Linked DNA regions of Homo sapiens: region 1 is linked to region 2. Evidence: fine-mapped expression QTL. Tissue or cell type: whole blood. Region 2 holds a variant in brackets; the other region holds the start of a gene. All regions are shown on one strand. Distances are between the middles of the regions.

What was found. PIP is the estimated chance that this variant, and not a neighbour inherited with it, causes the effect.
Region 1: it holds the start of CD63-AS1, and the variant in region 2 is fine-mapped to the expression of CD63-AS1 in whole blood (TOPMed, PIP above 0.99).

The regions. Positions count from the first base shown.
Region 1 is chr12:55,728,036-55,730,645 of GRCh38, reverse strand. It overlaps CD63-AS1 (CD63 antisense RNA 1), which reads right to left and starts at 1,552. Exons shown (of 2, transcript NR_183514.1): 1 at 1,291-1,552; 2 at 1-984. CD63 (CD63 molecule) reads left to right here and starts at 1,637. Exons shown (of 8, transcript NM_001780.6): 1 at 1,637-1,693; 2 at 2,294-2,370. The coding sequence starts at 2,305. RefSeq lists silencers at 1,291-1,670, 1,941-2,240 and an enhancer at 1,205-1,811.
Region 2 is chr12:55,673,110-55,675,867 of GRCh38, reverse strand. No RefSeq gene overlaps it. Among named protein-coding and RNA genes, the nearest start is that of TMT1B, 7.2 kb to the left of the region's middle. RefSeq lists an enhancer at 2,111-2,250. The variant G/A (reference allele first, on the strand shown) is at 1,449.

The sequences.
Region 1 (2,610 bases), 55 kb before region 2:
CTTCAGCCCATCTCACCACATCCGTCCCAAGCCCTTTGAGCCAGCCAACCCCAACCTGCCATGTACTTTACAAAATGCTCCTTTTTTTTCCACAGTCGACTGCTTCTCTGTCCCTGGAGCTCTCCCCTTTATTCTCCAAGGTCACCTTGAGCACATCCTTCTGCTCCGTGAAATCCATTCTCCTCTCCCTTTCCCTCCCTCTGAGCTTAACCAGCTGCCACCGCAGGCTTCTGCCTTTCTTCACAGTGTGGCCAGAACTCGGTTCTGCCTGCTAGCAGAGGGCAGGGCCGCTGTCTTCCTCTCCTTGCAGCCCCCAAGCCTAGCACATGCCTGGCATCTAGTGGCAGCACAATAAGGAACCTGATGAATACTCCTTTCTTCTGCTCTCCGCTCCTCCTCCACAGCCTGCCAGCCATGGTCAGGAAGAGCAAGATCCGGAATGGGCTTGGTGTGTCCCGCGGGAAGGCCGTGATCCTGGAAGATGCTTCTCAGCCCAGCCCGGATCTCCTTCCTTTAGCTCTAGAGACTTCTTTCATTCTTTGTGTACACACATACACTAAGACTCAGGAAGTGGTTCTTGAGGCAGGACCTTAAGAGCCCAAGGAGTGGGGCCGAGGCTGGAGGTGTGGGGGTGTGACGGCCGGTCCTACTCTCCGGCCTGTTCAGATCAGCTCCTTCTGGGGACCACCCCTGGCACACAAGGGAGGGAGGCAGCTTGATCCCCCTAGCCCGCTTCCAGCCCTCACCTGGCTTTGTCTTCTGGGATAAGACGGGGAAATCCAGAGGATGTAAGCCTCTCCTGCCTTCGTGTCTTCCCCCAAGCCCTCGCTATCACAGACGGATGCAGGAGCTGTCTGGGAGGCTGGAAGCACAGACCTTGTCAATCCTCCCCCAGAGGGCGGGACCCGACGCGGACGTGTCTTGATTGACTGGGTAGCGTGGCTTCGGGGAAGGGCTTCCTCCCCTTTTCTCAGACTAGGATCCCTGGAAAATGGAGAAGCTGTGCTAATAGAGGGGGGCCAGAAATCCCCACTCTAGAATGCTGTAGAATGTTGGGAGACACCCAGGATGTGAGCCAGGGACTTTCTGGAAGTGTTTGTTCTGGCCCCACCCGACCCCAGGCAGTCCCCAGCTGTCTGCACAGTCGGATGGGGAGGGGGCTTGCACAGAGTTGGAGCCAGAGGAGAGAGCTGGCTCATCCCCTACGGTAGGATGGGGAAACCTCACAGACCACATTGTCACCCGGCCTCAGCTCTCCGCCCCGGCGCTCAGAGGGTAACTCTCACCCACCTCGTCCGCTTCTCTGAACCAGAGTGACCCAGGCTGCGCTCCGCCCCGCTCTCCTACCCCGAGTTGGCACGGAGGTATAGCGCCAGAGGGGGGCCCCAGGCGCCCCGAGGTCTTGCCCTTGCGGCTTTCCCTTTGCGGGGGTGGGCGCCTTCTTCCGGGTAGGGGCCACGTGGCCCTGGCCGGGCGGGGGGCTCGGCCCACCCCGCGCCGGGCCCAGTGACTCAGGCCGCAGCTGTTACCGCGTCACATGAGGGAGGCCGGCGGCCACTCGGCGGGGGAGGGGACCGTGGCTGGAGCCCGGGGCGGGGCCGCGCGGCAGGCGGGGCGGGAGCCGGGGGGCGCAGCTAGAGAGCCCCGGAGCCGCGGCGGGAGAGGAACGCGCAGCCAGCCTTGGGAAGCCCAGGTGAGGCCGCGGGGACCCGGCGGACTTCGGCGCGGGCTGGGAGAGACCACCCGCAGTCCCTTCCTCCAGGGCTCGCCCCAGGCCCGCGGAGACTCGTCCGGCGCTCTCCAGCCGCCCTGGAGCAACTTTGCTTCGAAGTTCCCTGGGCCCGGGCAGGGTGTGGCGGGGGTGCTGGCTGCACTTTTTTTTTTTTTGGTGGGCGGGGAGGTCAGAGCCCAGGGGAAAGGGGCTGGGGCGGGGGTCGGGGTTGGGCTGAAGACCGTTTCTCCAGGCTGGGTGTTGGGTGGGGAAAGGGTGTTTGACGCCCGGAGACTGGCGGGCCGAGGGTCGGCGTCAGGCTCAAGCCCCTGCCGGCGCCCTTGGATCTGTCCTGGGCCCCAGAGGCGGCGGGGCGGGGTCCGGGCTTCGCGGCCGTCGCCCCCACCCCTCTCCTGCGGGTAAAGAGGGGGCTGGGAGACGTGGATCCGACCGCGGGTTTCCGGGTGGGAGGGGCCGGGAATCGGGGCCGTGAAGGGAAGCCCTCGAGGGCCGGCCGGGAGCCCGGAAACCGAGGTCCCCCTTCGGCCAGTTTTAATCCCCCCGCCCTCCCCTCTGCCCCAGGCCCGGCAGCCATGGCGGTGGAAGGAGGAATGAAATGTGTGAAGTTCTTGCTCTACGTCCTCCTGCTGGCCTTTTGCGTGAGTGGCGAGGGGTCCTGGGGGGCGCGCCGGCAGGGTGCGGGGAGACCTGGCTCCACAGTGGTGAGGGCTGAGGGAATGAGAATTAAGGCAGCTGGAGACCAGATGTGGAAAGAAAGCCAGGGAAAGACAGCGCAGCCACTCCCTCCTCCAGTTTTCCTGGACACCTGAGGCTTGTTTCCACCGAGAATGGCCATCCTGGGTGTGCAGCAACCCCTACCCCCATCCCTCCTGGCCCTT
Region 2 (2,758 bases):
TATGACTTTGGGCGGGCGTGGTGGCTCGTGCCTGTAATCCAAGTACTTTGGGAGGCCGAGAGGAAATGACTGCTTGAGCCCAGGAGTTTGAGACCAGCTTGGGCAACATAGGCTGTTGTTTTTCTCTACAAAAAATAAAAAAATTAGCCAATTAGCCGGGTGTGGTGGCATGCGCCTGTAGCCCCAGCTACTTAGGAGGCAGAGGCAAGGGGATTGCTTGAGCCTGCAAGTTCAGGGTTACAGTGAACCATGACTGGGTCAGTGTACTCCAGCCTGGGAGACAGAGAGAGACCCTGTCTCTAAAAACAAAACAAAACAAAACAAAGAAACCCGAAACTATTATTATCAAGCCTATTAATTATTTCCACATGCCAGGTCCAGTGAATATTCCCTGTTCTCATCTTATCTGACTTTTCAACAGCTTCAGAAATAGTTGGCTACTATTTCTTCTTGAAAAATTCTCTCATCTAGGCTGTCCTAACATAACAGTCTTCTTGTTTCTATAACATTCCCGTGGCTGTTACTTCTTAGAAACTTCTTTTTTTAGATCTTTCTCATCTACTCGACCTTTAAATTTTGTTTCTTTGGGTTTAGTCTTGGGTCTTTCTCTGTCTAAATTCTCTCATTAAATAACCTCATCTTTTTTTTTTTAATATAGACTTTATTTTTTAGAGCAGTTTTAGCTTCATAGAAAAGTTGAGGAAAGTACAGAGATTTTCCACATACCCTTTGTCCTCACACATGACTAGCCTTCCTCATTATCAGTATCCCCCACCAGAGTGGACATTTATTACAATTGATGAACCTACATTGACACATAATTTTCACCAAATCCCATCCATTTTCATGGTTTAAAATGCCATGTATATGCAAATTATTCACACATTTATATCTTTAGTGCAGATCCTTCCTTTGAGTTTCAAATTTGTATACCCAGTTGTGTACTTGATCCTCCTCCTCAGCATATCTTCTGGACATATAAAACTTAACATGTCCAAAATGACACTTACGGTACTCCCCAAGTCTCTTGTCTTACTCTGCCCATCTTCTTCATCATCTCAGTGAATGGCACCATTAGCTTCTTGATTGCTCAACCAAAAACCTAGGATTTATTCTATTTCTTCTCTGTCTCCTCCTTTTCTTTTCTCATTTCTAACTTTGTATAATGGAGAATTTTGAATATACACAAAAGTTGGCAGAACAGTATAAGATACCCCCATGTATACATCATTCATCCCAACAACTATCAACCCACAGCCAATCCTTCCCCATCCACATCCTTTTCTACTTTCTGCTTCCTTCTCCTGTGTGTCATTTTGAAGCAAATCCCAAACATCATGTCATTTCATCTCCATCTGTATCTCTCTATAACATATATATGACTTTCTTTTCTTTTCTTTTTTTTTGAGGCAGAGTCCCGCTCTTTTGCTAGGCTGGAGTGCAGTGGG[G/A]CGATCTCGGCTCACTGCAACCTCCGCCTCCTGGGTTCAAGCAATTCTCCTGCCTCAGCCTCCTGAGTAGCTGGGACTACAGGCACGCACCACCACACCCAGCTAATTTTTGTATTTTTAGTAGAGACAGGGTTTCACCATGTTGACCAGGATGGTCTCGATCTCTTGACCTCGTGATCTGCCTGCCTTGGCCTCCAAAAGTGCTGGGATTACAGGTGTGAGCCACCGCGCCCGGCCAATATATATATAACTTTCAAGTTACTCACAAGTCCTGTCAGCTCTATTTCCCAGTTCATTAATTTCATGCATTTCTTTCATCTCCACTGGCATAACCCTAGACCAGATCATGACCCTCCGCTGCCTGGCCCACTGCAAGGGCCTCATTAACTGTCTCTCCACTTTCACCCACTGCTTAAAACCTTTTAGTGGATTCCCATTATCTTTGGTACAAAATCTGAACTCCTTACTGTAGCCCATAAGGCCCTGTGTGATCTGGCCCCTGTCCACCTCTCATGCTACCCTCCCTTAACCCTGTGTTTTAGCTATACAATCTTCTTTCAGTTCCTCATACTCTCACTCCTTTTAGCTTCAGTGCTGTTGAGCTTGTCTTCCTCTTCCTGATATGCTTGCTTTCTTTTCAGCAGTCCCTCCTCCCTCCTGCCTAGTTAATTTTTTAACTCATTGTTTGGTTCTTGTATCAAGCATCCCTTCCCTTATTCATTTTGGTCAACAGCCCTTAGGCCAGTTTGTGATACTGTTCATGACTGTTATTATGGTATTAGTGTCTGCCCATGAGCTCCATAACAGTAAGGATTGTGTCCTTTTCCCTTATCACCACGTGTTTAGCATCTAGCATGTGCCTGGCAAGTAGTAGACACTAAAAATGTGTATGTCAAATAGATGATGAATACCTTTATCACATTTAAGCTTTTAAATTTTTCTATATTTTAATTTAATTTTATAGATGGTGTATCACTCTGTTGTGTAGGCTGGAGTGCAGTGGCTATTCATATGTGTGATTACAGCACTGTGGCCTCGAACTCCTGCCCTCAAGGGATCCTCCTGCCTCAGCCTCCTGAGTACCTGGGACTACAGGTGTGCACCACCAGGCCTGGCTTGTCTATATTTTAAAATTGGCTGTCTCCTCTAGCATGTTAGCTCTACAATGCCAGAGTATATTTTTCTCTTCATGGTAATATCTTCAGGGCCATTTCTAGTGCCTGTTTCAGGGACCACTCAATACACATTTAGTAGATGTATTAATGAAAGGTCCATATCATTGAGAAAGGACCCATATCATTGAGAAAGGA